7 linked regions of the Homo sapiens genome follow. The protein of the gene in region 6 interacts with the protein of the main gene of each other region in a biochemical or structural test. Each region holds a gene or a part of one and is shown on either strand. Other genes may lie near its edges. The genes, in order: SAE1, FYTTD1, EIF3L, RHOG, MRPL3, ERCC6 and GRPEL1.

Region 1 (3,500 bases), on a different chromosome or scaffold from region 6:
CCATCAACACCAAATACCATGTTTACGTTTTGTTTTATTGAAACAGGGTCTCATTCTGTGAACCCAGATTGAAGGGCAGTGGCAAGATCAGGGCTCGCTGCAGCCTCAACCTCCCAGGTTCAAGTGATCCCGCCACCTCGGCCTATTGAGTCCTGGGACTATAGGTGCACACCACTGCACCTGGCTGATTTATGGGTTTTTTTTTTTTTTTGTAGACACAGGGTCTCACTATGTTGCCCAGGCTCATCTCCAGCTCCTGGGCTCAAGCAATCTTCCTGCCTCTGCCTCCCTCAAAGTGCTGGGTTTACAAATCCCATCACTTTGGGAGGCCAAGGTGGGTAGATCACCTGAAGTCAGGAGTTCGAGACCAGCCTGGCCAACATGGTGAAACCCCATCTCTACTAAAATTACAAAAATTAGCCGGGCGTGGGCTGGGCACGGTGGCTCACACCTGTAATCCCAGCACTTTGGGAGGCCGAGACAGGCAGATCACGAGGTCAGAAGACCGAGACCATCCTGGCTAACAAGGTGAAACCCTATCTCTACTAAAAATATAAAAAATTAGCTGGGCATGGTGGCGGGCGCCTGTAGTCCCAGCTACTCGGGAGGCTAAGGCAAGAGAATGGCGTGAACCCGGGAGGTGGAGTTTGCAGTGAGCCGAGATGGCGCCACTGCATTCCATCCTGGGCAACAGAACAAGGGTCTGTTTCAAAAAGAAAAAAAAAAAAAATTAGCCGGGAGTGGTGGCAGGCGCCTGTAATCTCAGCTACTCGGGAAGCTGAGGCAGGAGAATCGCTTGAACCCGGGAGGCGGAGGTTGCAGTGAGCCGAGACCGCACCATTGCACTTCAGCCTGGACGAAAGAGCGAGACTCCGTCTCAAAAAAAAAAAAAAAAAAAGAAATACCCAAGTGGGCACAAAAATGATACACATTCAGCAGGGCACGGTGCCTCACGCCTATAATCCCAACACTTTGGGAGGCCAAGGCGGGCAGATCACGAGGTCAGGAGATTGAGATCATCCTGGCTAACATGGTAAAACCCCGTTTCTACTAAAAATACAAAAAAAAAAAAAAAAAAATTGGCCGGGAGTGGTGGCGGGTGCCTGTAGTCCCAGCTACTCGGGAGGCTGAGACAGGAGAATGGTGTGAACCCGGAAGGTGTAGCTTGCAGTGAGCCGAGATCGCGCCACTGCACTCCAGCCTGGGTGACAAGAGTGAGACTCTGTCTCAAAAAAAAAAAAAAAAAAAGATACACATTCACAGCAGCATTGTCCATCTACTTCCCTCAAGTTCCACAAACACCACTCTAGTCTGAGCCACCATCGTTTCTCTCCGACAAAACTACAGCAGGCTGGACGCAGTGGGTCACACCTGTAATCCCAGCACTTTAGGAGGGCAAGGCATGAGGATCACTTGAGCCCATGAGTTCGAAACCAGCCTGGGCAACAAAGTAAGACTCCATCTGTACAAAACAAAAAAAAATTAGCTGGGTGTGCCAGGCGCGGCGACTCACGCCTGTAATCCCAGCACTTTGGGAGGCCAAGGTGGGAGGACCATGAGTTCAGGAGATGGAGACCATCGTGGCTAACACGGTGAAACCCCGTCTCTACTAAAAATACACAAAATTAGCCGAGGCGGTCGGATCACTTGAGGTCAGGAGTTCGAGACCAGCCTGGCCAATATGGTGAAACTCCATCTCTACTCAAAATACAAAAATTAGCCAGGCGTGGTGGCACGTGCCTGTAGTCCCAGCTACTCGGGAGGCTGATCCTAGAGAACATCATCCTTGCTCCCATCCTTGCTCCCACCTTAGGACCTTGGCATTAGTGCTTCCCATTGCTTCTTCCCTCAACTTCTTAAGGGACACATTCTTTAGGTCTCAGCTCAATTGTCACCTCCTTAGAGAAGTCCATACTGGCCACCTAATTTAAAATAGGTCCACATCCTCTTCTATCTCGAATTATGCTACTTGTTTTTGTTTTGATTAAGATGGGGTCTGTGTTGCCCACTGTTTTGATTGAAATGGGGCCTCACTAAGTTGCCCAAGCTAGTCTCAATTGCCTGGCTCAAGTGATCCTCCAACCTCAGCCTCCCCAGTAGCTGGGATCACAGCCACACACCACTGTGCTAAGCTACACTACTTGTTTATATGTTTACTGCCCCCTCCTCCATTAGAATGTAAACTCCAGAAACCACTGTATCACTAGAACCAGTAACTTCCTTGGCATTTAGGACATACTGTTACTCAAATGGCTGTGAATTAATAGACACACCAAAACAAACCTGTGTCCATCAGCAGAATTATAGAAATCTGGTACATAATAAAATAATAATGGCCAACATTTATCTAACACTTACTATGTGCCAAGCACTGTTCTACTAAGCTCTTTGTATGTATTATGTCATTTAATTCCCATGACAATCTAATGGGCTGGCACTTTGTTACCCCTCTTTTGCAGCTGAGAAAACAGGCACAAAGAAGGTAACTTCTGGCCAGGCGCAGTGGCTCATGCCTGTAATCCCAGCACTTAAGGAGGCTGAGGCGGGTAGATCACCTGAGGTCAGGAGTTCAAGACCACCCTGGCCAACATGGCGAAACCTGGTCTCTACTAAAAATACAAACATTAGCTGGGCGCGGTAGCAGGCGCCTGTAATCCCAGCTACTTAGGAGGCTGAGGCAGGAGAATTGCCTGAACCCGGGAGGCAGAGGTTGCAGTGAGTCTAGATCACGCCATTGCACTCCAGCCTGGGCAACAAGAGAGAAATTCCGTCTCAAAAAAATAAAAAAATAAAATACACACACATAGGCCGGGTGTAGTGGCTCACGCCTGTAATCCCAGCACTTTGGGAGGCCGAGGTGGGCAGATCACTTGAAGTGAGGAGTTTGAGACCAGCCTGGCCAACATGGTAAAACCCCGTCTCTACTAAAAATATAAAAATCAGCCAGGTGTGGTGGCACGCGCCTGTAATCCGAGCTACTCCAGAGGCTAAGGCAGGAGAATCGCTTGAACTCAGGAGGCGGAGGTTGCAGTGAGCCAAGATTGTGCCACTGCACTCCAGCCTGGGCGACAGAGTGAGAGTCCATCACAAAAAAAAAAAAAAAACAACACACACACACACACACACACACAATCAGCTGAGTGTTACGGCATACGCCATGCACACACAAAATTAGCTGAGTGATATGGCATACGCCTGTGGTCCCAGCTACTTGGGGGCTGAGGCGGGAGAATCCCTTGAACCCGGGAGGTGGAGGTTGCAGTGAGCTGAAGATCACGTCACTGCGTCACTGCACTCCAGCCTGGGTAACAGAGCGAGAAAAAAAAATTTTAGTTGTAATTGTCAACTATCAATAAAAACTCCAGAAACTTGGCCTCAATTTAAGCAACCAAATCTGCTCTAGGAAGCTGCTTCTTTACTTTATTTTATTTTATTTATTTATTTTTGAGACAGAGTTTCGCTCTTGTCACCCAGGCTGGAGTGCGATAGTGTGACCTTGG
Region 2 (3,500 bases), on a different chromosome or scaffold from region 6:
ACTGAAGAACACCCTATTCGTTCTACCACTGAAGAACACTCTATACGTTCTACCACTGAAGAACAACTCTATACGTTCTACCACTGAAGAACACTCTATACATTCTACCACTGAAGAACAACTCTATATGTTCTACCACTGAAGAACACGCTATACGTTCTACCACTGAGGAACAACTCTATACGTTCTACCACTGAGGAACAACTCTATACGTTCTACCACTGAAGAACAACTCTATACGTTCTACCACTGAAGAACAACTCTATACGTTCTACCACTGAAGAACAACTCTATACGCTCTACCACTGAAGAACACTCTATACGTTCTACCACTGAGGAACAACTCCATACGTTCTACCACTGAGGAACAACTCCATACATTCTACCACTGAGGAACAACTCCACACATTCTACCACTGAAGAACACTCTATACATTCTACCACTGAAGAACAACTCCATACATTCTACCACTGAAGAACAACTCTATACGTTCTACCACTGAAGAACACTCTATACATTCTACCACTGAGGAACAACTGTATACATTCTACCACTGAAGAACAATTCTATACATTCTACCACTGAAGAACACTCTATATGTTCTACCACTGAAGAACAACTCTATACTTTCTACCACTGAAGAACAATTCTATACATTCTACCACTGAAGAACACTCTATACATTCTACCACTGAGGAACAACTCTATACATTCTACCACTGAGGAACAACTCTATACATTCTACCACTGAAGAACACTCTATACATTCTACCACTGAAGAACAACTCTATACTTTCTACCACTGAAGAACAACTCTATACTTTCTACCACTGAAGAACAACTCTATACATTCTACCACTGAAGAACAACTCTATACGCTCTACCACTGAAGAACATTTGGGTTGTTTCTCCAAGTATTTACTGAGTGCCTAAATTATTTTTCACACACGAAGTTAAAGATTTCATTCATTGACTTGTTCAGCCATCAGAAATCATACCGCGGATCTGCAAAGAGCTCCTCTGTCCTACTTATTTCTCTTACCTCAAGCTAACATCCTCATTGACATTACAACGTGGAAATCTGAACTTTTTCCTAGCCAATCAGAGTTTAAGACAATCCTCTATCTCTGTACATTCAGTAACAGTGGCAGCTGTTCTATTTTAGCCCGTGTCACATGTAAGCAATAAACATACAAGGGCAAGCTCAATCTTAGGAGATCCTAAGCTGCCCCTAGATATCATTTATTTCAAGGCTCAGATCATAACATCCATAAAAGGAAAGCTTTTCTGACACTTCATGGACCAGATCATATTTCACCTTATCCATTAAATCACTCCTGATCTTCTTAGTACAAAATCTCTAAAGTCCTATAATACTATTTGAATTTCTCTTACAACATTTCTCCCACACTACCTTTTCCATCTTATCTCTAACACCGGAAATTAATTCCTTGAAGTAGAAGACCACATCTTTATGTACCCCCTAGGACCCAATCAGTTTAGGGTATCTATCAAGTATTTAACACTGAAATATATTCATGTTAAATATTTGATAAACATTAATTAATAAATATATTTCTGGTTCTATGAACTCTCAACAGTTATTTTAAAAACAAATAATACAAAAATATATAGTATGTTCAATAACATTTATAAGAAATATTTAGGCCAGGCGCAGTGGCTCACGCCTGTAATCCCAGCACTTTGTGGGGCTGAGGCAGGAGGCCGAGGCAGGTGGATCACCTGAGGCTGGGAGTTCGAGACCAGCCTGACCAACGTGGAGAAACCCTGTCTCTCCTAAAAATACAAAATTAGCTGGGCATGGTGGCGCATGCCTGTAATCCCAGCTACTTGGGAGGCTGAGGCAGGAGAATCGCTTGAACCCGGGAGGCAGAGGCTGCAGTGAGCCAAGATCGTGCCTTTGCACTCCAGCCTGGGCAACAAGAGCAAAACTCCGTCTCAAAAAAAAATTTAAATATAAATCACTGGAACTAAACTTCATTTGCTACAGTTAAATACCTGTCATGAAATTTACTCCCTTAGGTTCAACTATTCAAAAAATTATTAGAGATGAATAATTTTTTTTAAGGGCCCAATCTCAGTTATATGTACTTTTCTTGAGACAGAGTCTCATGCTGGAGTGCTGTGGTGCCATCATGGCTCACTGTGGTCTTGATCTCCCAGGCTCAAGCCATCTTCCCACCTCAAACTCCTGAGTGGCTGGGACCAGAAAGAGGTACCACCACGCCTGGCTAATTTTTAAATTTTTTGTGGAGACAGGGTCTCCCTGTGTTGCCCAAGCTGGTCTCAGATTCCTGGATTCAACTGATCCTCCCAAAGTTCTGGGATTACAGGCATAAGCCACTGTGCTCAGCTTCAGTTATACATATTTTGAGGATATAATGGGATATTAGCTGTAAACACAGAACTAATTATGTTCAACCTACTGGAGATTATTTTTATGTTTTTCAACATATAGAATAAAAATCAATTTGGAAGTTAGTTTGTCAAACATATTTTTACATATCTGAAAAAGATTTAGTTCTTTTATTTCAACAAATATTTATTCTAAAATTCTGATATTGCTGATAAAGAAGTTAACAAGCCATATATATTAGTGTTCAATTACTGCCTTCAATCAAGATGGTTATAAATAAGCTTCCAGATTATCAAAAATAACTAAATGTGTAGAGTTCCACATTATATCTAAAGCATTCATTTCTGAGTGTCAACTTTGGAAGATTTAACAAATCCTAAAGTTCTTGGATGATAAGATAAGGAGTCTGGAGGTCATTTTCTATGCAGAATGTAACAGTAGTCTCCACATACTTAAAGAGTTCTCATATACAAAAGAGAATTTGCTTTCTATAACTTTACCGAAGTGATAGGCATGCTTTAATCCAAATTAAGAGGCCAGGCACAGTGGCTCATGCTTGTGAGGTAGTATGCTCTTTCACTGAATATATTTAAGCTGGAGTTAGTCATCCATTAGACAGACTGTTAAAGGAACATCTCACTTGGATGAAGATAGGAGCTCATGATATATAAGATCCTTTGCAATTCTAAACTCTGAATATAATTTAGACTGTGTATAAACTGAAGTTACTTTTAAATGACTTACAACGTTTAAGAGACAGTGTTACGTCTATTGAAGGCTACTGAAATTTTTACCAGGTTTTAGATCTAAACAAAAACCTAGGCATAGAGGAAACACAAAACACAAAGAGTACTGACGCATTCCTCCACGTTAAGCATATGCTAAAGACAGTACACTATGAACACACAAATAACAGCTTTCCATTAAAGCTTACTTTCAAAACTTACCAGAATTCTGTTGGATTCCCCATCGCACTCTCATCCTGAATTGCTGGGCACCACTTTGCTGGAGGAGTCTTCTATTTAGTCTTGGAAAATTCTGCTTCTTCCCTTCCTTTCGATTCAACTTGATGATATCATCTATGATAGAGGAAATGTCAATTATTTTCATTTTAACTTAACT
Region 3 (3,500 bases), on a different chromosome or scaffold from region 6:
CAGAGCGAGACTCACTCTCTCTCAAAAAAAAAAAAAAAAAAAAAGAAACTTCACGTACTCTATAATTTAGAAGTCGGGAAGAACAGAATCTAGCAAGTGCTCAAAGTTGGGATAATGTGTAGAATACTGGTGTTATAACAAGCTGGTCTAGATTCAAGGAGTTTTGTCACTTACTAGCTGGATAAATTTGAGAAAAGGTAACCTCTTGGCACCTCGGGTACCAACTTTGCACGATTGATAGTAGAATTAGATATGTGAAGATGTGTGCTAAGTGCCTAGCATTGTGCTTGGCATACAGTGACAGTGTTATGTACATCTCAGAGAAACAGAGGCTCAATGCTCTGAAGGGAAAAAGAACCCCAAGCAGAAGCAGCAGCAGGTACCTGGAAATATCCTATGAGGCTGGCAGCCTATAACCAGTGCATGGGTGATTGCCCAGTCCAGGAGAATTGTGGGGACAGAGAAATTTAAAAGAATGCATAGGTTATATAGCGTTAGTGTGTCTGAACAGCTTTCTGGGTTAAACTGTTCCTTCCACCGCTTCTTAAAACTCAAAAACATGCCAATCATGCCCAGACACTGAACCAATATAAACAAATGACTGTGTTCTAGGGACAAAAACAGCACAGAGTTAAAAAAACAAAAACAAAAAAAAAACTGCGACACTTAAATACTTACACTGACTTTGGCATATATGTGCCTGTAGTATAATTCTTTGTATAAAATCAGGAAGACAGCATCTGAAAGAGATGGCAGAAGGGTGCTTCACTAACCATAAAACTGGGGTATCCTGGCAGCTTTAGCTCTTTGGTGGGGAGGAATAAAGGTAATTCTGAAGACTAAACAACATCTAAATTGCTATGCATATGCCCCAAGAATACATGCAATGAGAAAATCCACTTCTCATTTGACTCCATCAACCTCAATCTCTGTCGATGAGATTAAGATCTCATTCAGATCTATTTCCTTTCACCATTTAGAGACTTCTGCCATCCAAGTGCATAAAAAAACCAGCACACAAGAGTAATTAGACAAGCGTGGTGGTGCGCACCCATGGTCCCAGCTACTCGGCAGGCTAAGGTGGGAGGATCGCTTGAGCCCAGCAGGCACAGGTTGCAGTCAGCCATTATCACACTACACTCCAGCATGGGCAACACAGTGAGACCCCCATGTCAAAAAAAAAAAAAAAAAAAAAAAAAGGAAGAAAGAAAATATTAATTTCAGAATGTTGTTTGTTTGTTTGAAGACAGGGTCTCGCTCTGTTGCCAAGGTTGGAGTGCAGTGATATGATCATGGCTCACTGCAGCCTCGACTTCCAGGGCTCAAGTGATCCTTCCACCTCAGCCTCCCGAGTAGGTGGGACTACAGGCATGTGCCACCATGCCTGGATAATTTTTTTAAAAAATTTTTTGTAGAGAAGGGGGTCTCCCTATGTTGCTCAGGCTAGTCTAAATCTCCCAGCCTCAAGAAATCCTCCCACCTCAGCTTCCCAAAGTACCAGAATTACAGCCGTGAGCTACGACACCCAGCCACAGAATGAGTTTTGAACTCATTCTGTGTTTAGTCAATTGAGAGTAAATGTTCAGGCCAGGTGCAGTGGCTCATGCCTGTAATCCCAGCACTTTGGGAGGCTGAGGCGGGTGGATCATTTGAGGTCAGGAGTTCAAAATCAGCCTGGCCAAGATGGTGAAACACCATCTCTACTAAAAATACAAAAAATCCGCCAGGTGCCTGTAATCCCAGCTACTCGGGAGGCTGAGGCAGGAGAATTGCTTGAGCCCAGGAGGCAGAGGTTGCAGCGAGCAGAGATCGCGCCACTGCACTCCAGCCTGGGCAAGACAGCAAGACTCCGTGACTCCATCTTAGGGGGAAAAAAAAAAGGAGTTAAGTGTTCAAAAAAACGTTAGCTATAACAAAACAAATGAGAGACTTGTACACTGAAAACACAAAACACTGGTGAACGCAACCAAAGACCTAAATAAATCAAAGACATCCCATGTCCATAGATTGGAGGACTTAATATTGGTTTTTTTTTTTTTTTTTTTTTTTGGGACGCAGTCTTGCTCTGTCGCCCAGGCTGGAGTCCAGTGGCGCAATCTCAGCTCACTGCAAGTTCTGCCTCCCGGGTTCACGCCATTCTCCTGTCTCAGCCTCCCGAGTAGCTGGGACTACAGGTGCCCGCCACCATGCCGGCCTGCCCAGATAACTTTTTTGCATTTTTAGTAGAGACGGGGTTTCACCGTGTTAGCCAGGATGGTCTCGATCTCCTGACCTCGTGATCCGTCCACCTTCACCTCCCAAAGTGCTGGGATTACAGGCATGAGCCACCGCGCCTGGCCTGGAGGACTTAATACTGTTAAGACGGCAATACTCCCCAAAGTGATCTTCAGATTCTAGGCAATTCCTCTCAAAATCCCAGCTGGCTACTTTGCAGAAATTGACAAGTCCATCCTAAAATCAATAAGCAAATCCAAGAGACCCAGAATAGTCAAAACAATCTTGGGGAAAAAAAAAAAAAGAACAAAGTTGGAGGACTTACCAATTCCCAATTTCTTTCTTTCTTTTTTTTTTTTTGAGGCGGAGTTTCGCTCTTGTTGCCCAGGCTGGAGTGCAATGGCGCGATCTCGGCTCACCGCAACCTCTGCCTTCCGGGTTCAAGTGATTCTCCTGCCTCCACCTCCCAAGTAGCTGGGATTACAGGCATGTGTCACCATGCCCGGCTGATTTTGTATTTTTAGTAGAGATGGGGTTTCTCCACGTTAATCAGGCTGGTCTCGAACTCCCGACCTCAGGTGATCCACCCGCCTCGGCCTCCCAAAGTGCTTGGATTACAGGCGTGAGCCACTGCGCCCGGCCTACAATTCCCCATTTCAAAACTTACTACAAAAATATAGTAATCAAGACAATGTGGCTGGGCACAGTGGTGCATGCCTGTAATCTCAGCACTCTGGGAAGATCACTTGAGGTCAGGAGTTCAAGATCAGCCAGGTCAACAAAGTGTGACCCGGTATCTACAAAAAATTTTTAAAAATTAGCTGGGCAGGCTGGGTGCGGTGGCTCATGCCTATAATCCTAGCACTTTGGGAGGCTGAGGTGGGCGAATCACCTGACGTCAGCAGTTCGAGACCAGCCTGGCCAACACGGTGAAACCCCGTCTCTACTAAAAATACAAAAATTAGCTGGGCGTGGTGGCGGGCGCCTGTAATCCCAGCTACGCGGGAGGCTGAGGTAGGAGAATTGCTTGAACCTAGGAGAATCGCTTGAACCTGGGAGGCGGAGGTTGCAGTGAGCCAAGATTGTGCCACTGTACTTCAGCCTGGGAGACAGAACGAGACTCCATCTCAAAAAAAATAATAATAATAAAATAAAATAAATAAATAAATAAATTGGTGCCAGGGTAGCTGAATATCCACAAGCAAAATAATGAAGTTGGATTTGCCTACCTCACCCATATATAAAGGACATCATCTAAGAAAGTCAAAGGTGGGAAGCTAGAGAGC
Region 4 (2,241 bases), on a different chromosome or scaffold from region 6:
ATTGACCACCAAGAGTCCCCCATGGCCAAGAGGAAGTAGCTGATGAGAGAAGGATCCTTGCCATAGCAGTGTAAATAATCACAGGGTTTCTGGAAGCTGTGTTCCAGAACTCAGAAAAGCAGTTCATCTCCCCGAGGCCCTGTGACCTGCAGAGGTAACCAGATGTTGGCTGGAGCTGGGACTCCTCATACTTACCCCACTCATAAATACAGCAGTCCATTTATTGGGCACTTGCTATGTGCCATACCTCATGCTGGACATCTTCTATACATTATTAACTCTTACTTTTTATTTTTTTTTTTTTGAGACAGGGTCTTGCTCTGTCGCACAGGCTGGAGTGCAGTGGTGTGATCATAGCCCACTGCAGCCTTGACCACCCTGGGATCAAGTGATGCTCCCACCTCAGCCTCCCGAGTAGCTGGGACTACAGGTGTGTACCACCACACCCTGGTAATTTTTTCATTTTTTGTAGAGTCAGGGTTTTGCCATGTTGCCCAGGCTAGTCTCAAACTCCTGGGCTCAAGCGATCTACCTGCCTCATTCTCCCAAAGTGCTAAGATTACAGGCATGAGTCACCGTGCCTGGCCTCATTTCATATTCTGAGCAATTGTAATGCAATAGGCAAGATTATCCCCATTTTACAGATGAGAAAATTGAGGCTCAGGGAACAAATATATTGCCAAGATCACATATAACTAGTTGGTGGAGCTGTGATTAGAATACCTGCGAGTCTTACTCTAGCATCTATGTTCTTAATGATGGTATTTTCTATCCAAGAGTCTGGAAGTCTCTAAAATCTTTCAGAGGCACATGCCAGGATCTCAGGAAATGGACAGAAGATTGAGGGGAAAGTCAAGTTTTTGTCTTACTCTTGACTTCATCCTTCCTAGTTGGGCCTGAAAGATTTGCTCCAGGCCGGGCATGGTGGCTCATGCCTGTAATCCCAGCACTTTTTGGAAGGCCAAGGCGGGCAGATCACAAGGTCAGGAGTTCAAGACTAGCCTGACTAACATGGTGAAACCCCGTCTCTACTAAAAATACAAAAATTAGCTGGACGTGGTGGCATGCGCCTGTAATCCCAGCCACTCGGGAGGGTGAGGCAGGAGAATCGCTTGAACCCGGGAGGTGGAGGTTGCAGTGAGTCAAGATTGCGCCACTACACTCCAGCCTGGGCGACAGAGCAAGACTCCGTCTCAAAAAAGAAAAAAATTTGCTCCACCCCACCAAGGGCCTTGAGAGAAGATACTAATGTCTGGGAGCCTCAGCCTCTACCTCATTCATCATAACATACCCAGACCCCAGTCCAAATCCCAGGTCCAACTGAATCTCCAGTATTCCCCTGCATTGAATTGGCAATCTGAGTGTACATGGCCAGATAGGGTTTTCAGTACTTACAAGAATGATGGGGTGGCCAGGTGTGGTGGTTCACGCCTGTAATCCCAGCACTTTGGAAGGCTGAGGCAGGTAGATCACCTGAGGTCAGGAGCTTGAGACCAGCATGGCTAACACGGCGAAACTCCATCTCTACTAAAAATATAAAAATTAGCCGGATGCAGTGGCACCTGCCTGTAGTCCCAGCCACTCGGGAGGCTGAGGCAGGAGACACTTGAACCCAGGAGGCGGAGGTTGCAGTGAGCTGAGATCACGCCACTGCACTCCAGCCTGGACGACAGAGTGAGACTCCATCTCAAAAAAAAAAAAAAAAAAAAATTTCCCCATTGCCAGAATACCCTGGATTGGGATAGGGCAGCTCTCTAAAGAATTGAGCCCCTTACTCAGCAGGTTTCTTAACTGTGCCTTTGGGTTTGTACTCAGTAGCCAAGATACCAGGTTTGGAGAGGGCAGGGTGGGCCCTGAGTTGAGAGAGGTTCTACTTATGGCTGCATCACAGAGTGACCTGGGACAGCTGTCCTGTGCCAAAACACTTTCCAGTCTCCTGGTGGAAAGGGTCCATATTTAGTAGAGGATCTAGTAGATCCCTAAATTTGTGCACTCTCCTTTTGTGTCTGTATAGCCTGGAAAAAAAAAATAGCTAATACTGGCCAGGCGCAGTGGCTCACGCCTGTAATCCCAGCACTTTAGGAGGCCAAGGCGGGCGGATCACGAGGTCAGGAGATCGAGACCATCCTGGCCAACACGGTGAAACCCCATCTCTACTAAAAATACAAAAAATTAGCCGGGCGTGGTGGTGGGTGCCTGTAGTCCCAGCTACTCGAGAGGCTGAGGCAGAATGGCGTGAAC
Region 5 (3,500 bases), on a different chromosome or scaffold from region 6:
CTGCCTCCATACCTACTAATAGTCCATTGGCAGACCTCAGGTCCTTCGTTAATAGCTGGAGACATCCTTGCAGCATGTCTCTCCATAGGACAGTTTACACTAGCTGTGGAAGTTGGCTTCCTTCAGAGCCTGGCAAGCAAGAGAGTACCAAGATGGAAGCTACAGTCTCTTTGTAACCAAATCTCAGAAGTGACATCTCATCACTCTTGCCATATTTTATTTATTAGAAGCAAGGGACTAGGTTCACCCAGACTCAAGGGGAGGGAATTAAACAGGAGCATGAGTACCAGGAGGTGGTGATCTTTGGGTTCCATCTTAATGGCTGCTTGCCATATCTGCTATAAGTACTTTGAAACTTCTAGAGCTTTTCCATTTTTACTGTGTCATCTTCACAGAATTAGGATGATAAAACTCCTGTTCAGATAAAATTCCCTGTGCTTAGCTTGCTGGTGTCTCACAATCTTGAATTAATCATTTTATATAGAATTAGACTCCAGGAAGGGGTGCAGACCAAGACAGAGATAAAGGAATATTTATTTGCAGTTTTAGTTGTATAGCCTTTTCTAGTTATTTAAATAAGAAGCTTTGTTAAAACTCTAACAAGAATGTGTACAGTTGGTACTAGAAAGTGTACAATTGGGAATGGTCTATGCTCTTTTCATTATGTAAATTCTAACGTTTGTTTTGTTCAGTATTGGTAAAGGTTTTCAAGGTGTCATGAAAAGATGGGGATTTAAAGGCCAGCCTGCTACGCATGGTCAAACGAAAACCCACAGGAGACCTGGAGCTGTTGCAACTGGTGTGAGTATAACTAGTGAAGCTCTTTTTAATGCTAAATATTCAACTTCTGCACATGTAGTCCTCAGTCCGTCCTTGATATGAAGTCACATAATTTTAGTCTGACACAAGGGGACTCCATGTACTTGTCACCCTTTTATGGATCCTTGCCCCTCACTCATTTCCCAGAGCCAGACTAGAATTAGTTATATTCCACAAGGTTAGCTGAGCATCTGTAGTTTGGCTGTATATACCCTGAGTCTAAATTTAAAATGTACTTTGTGCAAATGTTGAATTCAGTTTGTCTTTTGAATTAGTATCAGTTAACAATTCTGAAATAATTTTCTGTGAATTGTAGGATTGAGTAGATAAGTAAATGTATTGATAATGGAGCTAGGTTTCTCACTGTTGGAAAAGGGCGTTAAAGTATGAAAATGGGAAAATTAAAATGAACCCTATAGTGTTGAATTCAAACTATAAGTATGCATATACTGTTTGGTGGGGGAGGGGAATGCATGCATGCACACAAGGAAAAAATGTAGCACACAGAGAAACAGAGGGGTGTGTGTGTGTGTGTCTTAGTTCTGTCTACTGGAACATTGTAGTCATATATAACGGAATATATTTGTAGAATGAATAAGAGTGATACTTAGTCTGTAATACTCAGAATTGTCTTTTAAGCCTGTTGGTTACATATTAAACATATCTAATGCCATGATGAGGTACTTCCACTGAGAGTTTCACCTGTTAATGTGAGAGCAGCTGATGGAAAAGTGTTTATATTGTGAGAATTCATGTGTTATAAGAAGCTGTTCCATTTTAGTCATAATTCAGATTTGCTTCTTTAGATGTAGAACTATTACCCGTTATCAGAGCCAAAATCAGAGACTGTTAGATTTATGTAAATCAGAGAAAACCAGGGCTAGACAAACTAGTATTCTGATAACTAACTCTGTCCTTGAATAATTTTGGTCAAGGAAAGTAACATCTAAAGCAAGGAGCAGTAGGACCATTCCAGCACCAGTGGTATGGATGAAGTCCATTAAGTCAGTTAATACAGAAGATGAGTTCAAAACAGGCCTGGCAGTCCATTTTTTTTCTTTGAATGATGGTGTCGGTGTGTCTGTATGCCCTTGTCCTTTTTTAATTCTTAGCCAGTATTAGGTCCGTTGTTGCTGAGTTTTTCTCCTAAATCTGCTTCTTAGTCTGTATTTATTTTATCATTCTAGTCTCATTAGAAAGGAAATCCTCTAGGAGTAAATATGCCTAAATCCATATTTAGTTCCTTACTTGGGACCTAGCAGAATAGGGGAAAAATAAAACATTTTAATAATTTATATTTTTAGTTTACATTGTGGTTTGATCAGTGCTGTTTAAAATTGATAGTACTTAAAAGTGTTAACTTTAGTTTTCTCATTTAGGATATTGGCAGAGTCTGGCCTGGAACTAAAATGCCTGGAAAAATGGGAAACATATACAGGACAGAATATGGACTGAAAGTAAGTGTTACAAGTGGTTCTTTTTAGGAACAGCTAAATTGTCTAAATGCAAAGGCAGCAGAATATGTATTTAATCTGTGTCTGTACCATTGTTCTAAGAGGCTTTAAAATTATTGAGGAAAAGAGGATACATGAATTGTGTGTGTGTGTGTGTGTGTGTGTACACTCTAGTTGTAGTAATGGTGGTAGTAATGATAGGGTATATTTCAGGCCATGAAAAGTGCAGTCATTAAAGAGACAAAATTAGTAGTCCACTCTTGGACCTGGAAGATTTTTACAAGATATTGTTGCATGAAAAAAGTAAGATTCAGAGCATTCAGTATAATACTCTTTATTGAGTAAAAGATTTAACAAAAGCTCTCTACGTGTGTATGTTGCTGTGCCATCATATAATCACAGAAGAGTGGAAGGGTATATACCAGGTTCTTGGATTATATATCAAATGTGTGTGTGTGTGTGTGCGTGTGTGTGTGTAAGTGTAAGGAGGAGAGTGGGAGGCAATCAAAATAGGAGGAAACAATAGCACTACAAAAGGATTATGATATACATCCGTTTTTATAAAAAATGTCTGTGTATATTTAAAAGAGAAGTTGAATTCAATCTCTACCAATGAGAAATGTACCTAAGTAAAACTGAGTTATACTATAATGGATGCTGTATAATTATATTTCTGTTAAACAACTAATGTTTATATTTGTTTGCATGTATGTTTTAAAGTGTAGGAAGTACAAAGAAGAAAATAAGCCACCAATAAGAACAATACCCAAAGACAATCACTGGAAACATTTTGGTGCATATCCTCCCAGTCTCTATTCTGCATACCTTTTATATATAAATTTTGACCAGGAGAAGTTTTCAAATTTTATATAATTAAACCTAAGATTTTTTTTACCCCTTCTATTACATTTATACTTATCAGAGACCATCTATTTGCTGTATTTTCTTCGTGTGTGTGATTTCAATTTTTGTAATATTTAATACTTATTCATTATTAGATAGGAGCCATGGGTCAAACTTGATTCCTTATCCAAATATTTTATTTTCTCAGTACCATTTTTTGACCAATCATTCTCTCCCATTTATGTACGTTTTTTCTCCACATGAAGATTTTTTGAGGACCATCTACTCAGCCCACTTACTTTAGAAATTAGAATCAGTGAGGTTGTGGCTTCTCCAGCCTCTAGTTACAGCAAGCTAGTATTAACTAAAAATAAAATAAAATTG
Region 6 (3,500 bases):
TTTTCGAGACAGAGTTTCACTCTTGTTGCCCAGGCTGGAGTTCTGCGGTGTGATCTCAGCTCACTGCAACCTCTGCCTCCTGGGTTCAAGCGATTCTCGTGCCTCAGCCTCCCGAGTAGCTGGGATTACAGGCATGCACCACCACGCCTGGCTAATTTTTGTATTTTAGTAGAGATGGGGTTTCACCATGTTGGGTCAGGCTGGTCACGAACTCAGGTGATCCACCCGCCTTGGCCTCCCAAAGTGCTGGGATTACAGGTGTGAGCCACCAAGCCTGGCCTGAAACTTCTTTTACCAAGGTAAATGGTGACCCATTGGTATCCAAATTCACTCAGCCTTTTCTCATTCACTGGACGCTCTTCCTCCTTTTTTATTATTAGAAGTTTTCCCCAAACTTCTTTATTTTTAACCTTGTCTTTACACTACAATACTATTGCTTTTTGATATTATTTTACAGAAATAGAAAAATGGTTACTTAATATTTTTGGTTGAATTGGCATCCTTTTTTCTTAAAAAGAAATCCTCATGTGTGTACAAATAAGAAAAATGAAAACAGAATTGTTAACTGCCAGCTAGTACAGACACTCTGAGCTGGAATCCTGCTCTCTCTGTTGGAAAGTGAGGTGAGCTGAGCCTTCCTCTTGAAAATAATCAGCAGGCCCCAAAAGAAGGAACTTTCTCACTGTGTTGTTCACTTTTTAACCTTTCCAATGTTAGCCTCCTCGTACCCTCCAAAATGACCTTAGGTACCTGTCAGAGCCTTGGGAACCCTGGAACTGCTCACTCTGCTGATGTGTCCACATGTCACCCAGACTTTCCCTTGAGCTCAGATTTGCATTTCTGACTGCATGCTGCAAATGGTACTGATTACATGTAAGCTGCTTGCCAGTCCTGCTTCCTATCTGCTTCCTTTTTGAGAGTCTCATTTTTGTGACTGAATTCACTGGTGACTCATTTGTCCAGACCAAACTTTTTATTATTTTAGACTTAGCTCTGAACCTCACTTCCTTTCAGCAGATATTGAGCACCTCCTATATATCAGACCATGCATGGCCCATGTGTTCAAATCTCAGTTCCTCCGTGATATTTCTTGGGCCCCAGACACCATATATAGTTCGCTCGATGCTCGTGTGACCTCTTGTCCGTGTCCCGGGCTAGCTGACCTGCCCTGCTCTGTTGTTAACTGACATGCTGCTGCTCCAGTGGATAGCCACTCGGGTGTAGATGATGCTGAATTCTTTGTATCCCGGTGCTTTATTGCTGGGCTTATTTTACTTAATAAGGGATGAGTGGGGCCCACTGGGGGAACTTGTCATTTAACAGAAAAGTTACAGTGCTCAAAGAAATCTTATTCACAGTTAAACAAAAAGCAAGACTGATTTTTGGTTATCGTTTTGCTTTTTAATATATTTATTAGATGTGATAGTTGTATAGGTAATATAGTGAATATATTCTCCTTAAAGCAGCAGGTCCTGAGTATGTGGAGTACAATGTGAACATTCCCCCTTATTTTTCCCTGTGCTTTCTCTTCCCCATCCTGATTTGCAGGCTTAGTTTGTATCCTGCCAGATCATTCTGTGTGCAGGATAGATACTTTTTTCAGCATAAGTGTGTTCATACCATGAATTTTTTCACTTAACATGGCTTTTATATCAGTATACAGAATATACTTAGTAGTTACATTAAACTATTAAAAATGTGCTGCACTAAACATTCTTGCACCTGTGTGTGACTAGTTCTCTGGAATAAATACCTAGAATTGCTTGACAAAGGTCATGTGCCTTTAATTTAATAGATATTGCTAAGTTGTCCCTACAAGGGGCTTTACTAATTTATATTCTCAGCAGCACTATGTGAGGGGGGATCCTTCTCCTTGTCTGTATTGGATTTATCTATCAGGCTTTGAATTCTTGCTAACCTGATGGGTGAGAAATTATACTGTGTATTAAAATGGAGTTTTTTTTTTGTTTTTTTTTTTTTTTTTTTTTGAGATTGAGTCTCACTCTGTTGCCTATGCTGGAATGCAGTGGTGAGATCTCATCTCACTGCAACCTCCGCCTCCTGGGTTCAAGTGATTCTCCTGCTTCAGCCTCCCGAGTGGCTGGGATTACAGGTGCTCACCATCATACCCAGCCAATTATTGTATTTTTAGTAGAGATCGGGTTTCACCATGTTTGCCAGGCTGGTCTCAAACACCTGACCTTAAGTAATCTGCCCGCTTCAGCCTCCCAAAGTGTTGGGATTACAGATGTGAGCCATCGTGCCCAGCCTATTTTTGAGAATATTTTAATTAATCTTTTAAAAAAACTTTAAATTTATTTTACAAGGTCTTGCTCTTTTGCCCAGGCTAGAGTGCAGTTGTGCAATCATGGCTCACTGCAGCCTCCATCTCCCAGGCTCAAGTGATCCTCCTGCCTCAGCCCCTTGAGTAACTGGGACTATAGGTGCACATCACCAGGCCTGGCTAAGGTTTTAAATTTTTAGTAGAGACAAGGTCTCATTATCTTTCCCAGGCTGGTCTCGAAGTCCTGAGCTCGCTGTGTTTCCCTGGCTGGTCTCTATCCTCCCGCTTTGGCCTCCCAAAGTGCTGGGATTACAGGACTGAGCCACGTGCCTGGCCTAATTAATCTTCTGAGCTTCTGATTTGTTCAAAGCTCCTATTTACTGGATAGGTATTCAGCCTAGGAGTTTCTAGTCTCAGATTCACACAGAAGCTCTTTCCTAACATCGCTGTTCCTATGCATTACAGTTGATCTTGCCACTATATTATAAATCATTTGTGTCATAATGAAATGAAGATGCTAACTTGGAAAACAGCAGCCAAATGACTTCAGCTGTTTTGAAGAATATTCCATGGCCATCACCCCAGGATTTTGGTGGCTGGCTTTCTTAGCTGGCTGCCTAAATGTCCTTTGTTGATGATACTGCATTTCTTTTTCTGGTTAATTTTTCTTATTTATTATCAGAACTCAAGAAGATACGTTGTCCCTTTTTAGTAAATTAATACTTGGAAACTTGAATTTATGTAGTTGGAAGATTATTACTTGATCTTTTGAGAAATCAGTCTGCTCTAATTATAAAATATTTAAGAACTACAATGAATCCTATATAACGAAAAGGCTTATAAATTTTTTTCCTTTTAGGTAGTCTGTAGAGAATGCCAAATGAGGGAATCCCCCACTCAAGTCAAACTCAGGAGCAAGACTGTTTACAGAGTCAACCTGTCAGTAATAATGAAGAAATGGCAATCAAGCAAGAAAGTGGTGGTGATGGGGAGGTGGAGGAGTACCTCTCCTTTCGTTCTGTGGGTGACGGGCTGTCCACCTCTGCTGTGGGGTGCGCATCAGCAGCTCCGAGGAGAGGGCCAGCCCTGCTGCACATCGACCGACATCAGATCCAGGCAGTAGAGCCTAGCGCCCAGGCCCTTGAGCTGCAGGGTTTGGGTGTGGACGTCTATGACCAGGACGTGCTGGAACAGGGAGTGCTTCAGCAGGTGGACA
Region 7 (3,335 bases), on a different chromosome or scaffold from region 6:
CCAGGAAAAAAAGTGTTTCAATGAGCGCCTCAGTCTCTGTGAATGCGACAGAGACTCTAGCTCTTAGTTTCCATGTGGCCTCTCACCGTCTGACCCAGGCAAGGCCATTTACCCTCCCTCGAGCCTTAGGTTCCACATCTCTAATACCCACTGTCAGTCACGCAGAGATCCAGAGCCAGCACTCAAACAACCAGCCTGTGGAGCTGGGAGCCTGGGGTTACGTACCAGCTTTGTGATGTGTGGCAGGTGACTAAACCTCAATGATCTCAACTGTAAAATGGGAAGGACAGTAACAAAAACATCCAAAGGTGGCAATGCATATAGCATGCTGGGAGTTCTGAAGTGATGCCAGTGTTACTTCCGGAGGGCTAAGGGGATGGGCATCAGAGGCTGACCTGCTGCAGGTTCCCACCAAGGTCTCTGCGTGGGGGAGGACACACCTATTTACAATTCTTCATGCTAGTCTCAGCTACTTGATTTCTGCTCCTCCAGACACCTTTGCTGTTGAGCCATCATAAAAAAAAATGCAGGGGATGCAACAGCTGGACCCCCCACCCCACAGCCTTGCTCTCTGACACTTCCGTATGCATGGCCTTCCCCTTCCCCACCCCATTATCTTCTTTCCGGAATCAACACCATGTTATGTTGAAAGTACCGTATAATTTTGCCTCCTCCACCAATTTCTGGCTCCTCTGCCGTAAGTTCTCAGTGTCTGCCAAAGCTCGTTTATATTTTTCCTAAAAGAGAAAAAAAGGGATATTTATATATATATATATATATATATATCTTTTTTTTTGAGACGGAATCTTGCTCTGTATGTCGCTCAGGCTGGAGTGCAGTGGCATGATCTCAGCTCACTGCAAGCTCCGCCTCCTGGGTTCACGCCATTCTCCTGCCTCAGCCTCCCGAGTAGCTGGGACTACAGGCGCCTGCCACCACGCCCAGCTAATTTTTTTGTATTTTTAGTAGAGATAGGGTTTCACCGTGTTAGCCAGGATGGTCTCCATCTCCTGACCTTGTGATCCGACCGCCTCGGCCTCCCAAAGTGCTGGGATTACAGGTGTGGGCCACCATGCCTGGCCGGGAGATTTATATTAATATGGAACAAAGTCATAGGAAAGCGAGCTTGATTGGAAAACGGCTGTGTAACTAACTACAAGTCAAAACAGAAGTAATATCACTGCCTTTGAGATGTGACTAAGGAGGGCAGCTTAATGAAAGCTTAATAAAAGCTGCACTCATGATCTTTTGCTATGCTGTGTTACCCAGAGGTGGCTCAGTTCAAACATTCCTTGTGTAATCATCATCTGAGTTCTAGTATATTCCTCATGTCTCACCACCTTCCGGTAAGCTCACTCATCTGAGCCTTTTTTTTTTTTTTCTGAGACAGGGTCTTGCTCTATCATCCAGGTTGAAGTGGTGTAATCTCGGCTCACTGCAGCCTCAACCTCCTGGGCTCAAGCAATTCTCCCACCTCAGCCTCCTGGGTTGCTGGGACTACAGGAGTGCACCACCACGCCCAGCTAATTTTTAATTTTTTTTAGAGATGGAGTCTCACTATGTTGCCCAGGCTGGTCTTGAACACCTGGGCTCAAGCAATCCTCTTGCCTCAACCTTCCAAAGTGCTATCAGAGGGGTAAGCCACTGCGCCCAGCTAGCTTTTCTCTTTTTAACATTTACTAAGTTGCTCTGTGGGGGCCTCTATACTGCATCCATTTTCAGTCTTCAGGTAATCACTGTACAGTGGCAAGGAGCAAGAGCTCCAAGTCCAGGGGGTTCTAGTTCGAGCCCTGGCTCCGCACCTGGCAGCCAGGATTAACATATGTAACGGGTTTGGAATGGTGCCAGCACTCAGGGTTTGATGTCTTTCTCAAATCCTTAAAGAACTTGATTTGTGCCACCTATGTGTTTTCACATGGAGTAATAATCCATGTTACTAGTTCATAAAACTCCTACCTGCCTATGAGAGCATCACATAAAACCACACTCCTGCTCCCAACTCTTGTACTTGCAATTTTCTGCTTCCTCTCCTAAGTCCCAGCCTAAACAACCATACTGAGCATTCCTCATTTGTAAAGATGATTTTAAGTTTTCATTCAATGACAAATAACAGCGTGTAAAGATTAGTCTCTTGCCAGAACCAGAGTTGCACAGGATTTGGGTTTTAGTCTTTGCTTTGGCAGTAACTTGCCACCTGGGCCCACTGCAGGCCATGGACAACGGCTTAACTCTGGCTTTAGTCTGTCACCAATGAAACCTGGAACCTTTATGTGGCCCAGGAGAGAAACAGTTCAGCCGAGCCCGCCCCCACAGGAGCCTCACAGTCCTCACCACAGTCTCCTTCAGCTGTTCCTCCAACTTGACCTTCTCTTCCAGGAGGGTCTTCTCTGTAGCAGGAGGATCTGCCTTCTGTTCACTCTGACCCATGTCCTCTTCCAGGTTCTGGCCACTGTTCTTTTGTTTCGTGGCTGTGCACAACAACCGGGGAGATGGCCTACAGGGAAGTCCACACGTGAGAAACGAAGACTTAGTTTTTGTGCTTATTAAAGTCAGATGTATGACTTTAGAAACTTAAAATAGCTTCAAACTATTTACTATTACTTGGGGAGAAAACATTTCTGTTAGATCTAATAAAGGCACACTGTACGTGACATATAGAAGCTATATTAGTAAATATAAAAGCTGTAAGTCATATACAATGTGCCTTTATTAGATCTAAGATAAACATATATATATTTTTTTAGAGACAGGATTGGTCTCTCTCTATATATCTATCTATCTATACATCTATCTATATCTATATGTATTTCTTTTTTTTTGAGAGAGAGAGTCTTGCTCTGTCACCCAAACTGAAGTGCAGTGCAACCTCCGTCTCGTGGGTTCAAGGGATACTCCCACCTCAACCTCCCCAGTTGCTCGTCACCACACCCGGCTAATTTTTGTATTTTTAGTAGCGATGGGGTTTCACTATGTTGGCCAGGCTAGTCTTGATATCCTGACCTTAAGTGATCTGCCCGCGTTGGCCTCCCAAAGTGCTAGGATTACAGGCGTGAGCCACCGCGCCTGGCCTCTCCATGTATTTTTAGAGACAGGGTTTCGCTGTCACCCAAGCTACAGTATGGTGGCACAATCATAACTCACTGTAACCCCGAACTCCTGGGCTCAAGTGTTCCTCCCACCTCAGCCTCCCAGAGTGCTGGGATTACAGGCATGAGCCACTGTGCCTGTCTTTTTTATAAGATCTTCTGTAAGTACATGCCTAAACTTACATGTCAATGTGCCAAGTTACAGTACTTGGTACAGAACAGTACTAACCTCCTCTTTCCATTCTAAGG

The links.
Region 1: the proteins of ERCC6 (region 6) and SAE1 form a complex in vitro, tested with the Homo sapiens proteins (one large-scale study listed by BioGRID).
Region 2: the proteins of ERCC6 (region 6) and FYTTD1 form a complex in vitro, tested with the Homo sapiens proteins (one large-scale study listed by BioGRID).
Region 3: the proteins of ERCC6 (region 6) and EIF3L form a complex in vitro, tested with the Homo sapiens proteins (one large-scale study listed by BioGRID).
Region 4: the proteins of ERCC6 (region 6) and RHOG form a complex in vitro, tested with the Homo sapiens proteins (one large-scale study listed by BioGRID).
Region 5: the proteins of ERCC6 (region 6) and MRPL3 form a complex in vitro, tested with the Homo sapiens proteins (one large-scale study listed by BioGRID).
Region 7: the proteins of ERCC6 (region 6) and GRPEL1 form a complex in vitro, tested with the Homo sapiens proteins (one large-scale study listed by BioGRID).

What each region holds. Positions count from the first base shown.
Region 1 is NC_000019.10:47,137,335-47,140,834, reverse strand, and holds part of SAE1 (SUMO-activating enzyme subunit 1), read right to left. Parts: intron 1-3,500. UniProt on the Homo sapiens protein: The heterodimer acts as an E1 ligase for SUMO1, SUMO2, SUMO3, and probably SUMO4. It mediates ATP-dependent activation of SUMO proteins followed by formation of a thioester bond between a SUMO protein and a conserved active site cysteine residue on UBA2/SAE2.
Region 2 is NC_000003.12:197,756,383-197,759,882, reverse strand, and holds part of FYTTD1 (UAP56-interacting factor), read right to left. Parts: intron 3,458-3,500; coding exon 3,326-3,457; intron 1-3,325. UniProt on the Homo sapiens protein: Required for mRNA export from the nucleus to the cytoplasm. Acts as an adapter that uses the DDX39B/UAP56-NFX1 pathway to ensure efficient mRNA export and delivering to the nuclear pore.
Region 3 is NC_000022.11:37,855,919-37,859,418, reverse strand, and holds part of EIF3L (eukaryotic translation initiation factor 3 subunit L), read right to left. Parts: intron 741-3,500; coding exon 679-740; intron 1-678. UniProt on the Homo sapiens protein: Component of the eukaryotic translation initiation factor 3 (eIF-3) complex, which is required for several steps in the initiation of protein synthesis.
Region 4 is NC_000011.10:3,828,719-3,830,959, reverse strand, and holds part of RHOG (rho-related GTP-binding protein RhoG), read left to right. Parts: intron 1-2,241.
Region 5 is NC_000003.12:131,468,472-131,471,971, reverse strand, and holds part of MRPL3 (large ribosomal subunit protein uL3m), read left to right. Parts: intron 1-692; coding exon 693-801; intron 802-2,198; coding exon 2,199-2,276; intron 2,277-3,500.
Region 6 is NC_000010.11:49,532,622-49,536,121, reverse strand, and holds part of ERCC6 (DNA excision repair protein ERCC-6), read left to right. Parts: intron 1-3,143; 5' UTR 3,144-3,157; coding exon 3,158-3,500. UniProt on the Homo sapiens protein: Involved in repair of DNA damage following UV irradiation, acting either in the absence of ERCC6 or synergistically with ERCC6. Involved in the regulation of gene expression.
Region 7 is NC_000004.12:7,061,730-7,065,064, forward strand, and holds part of GRPEL1 (grpE protein homolog 1, mitochondrial precursor), read right to left. Parts: exon of another isoform or gene 3,154-3,335; intron 2,495-3,153; coding exon 2,332-2,494; intron 738-2,331; coding exon 656-737; intron 1-655. UniProt on the Homo sapiens protein: Essential component of the PAM complex, a complex required for the translocation of transit peptide-containing proteins from the inner membrane into the mitochondrial matrix in an ATP-dependent manner.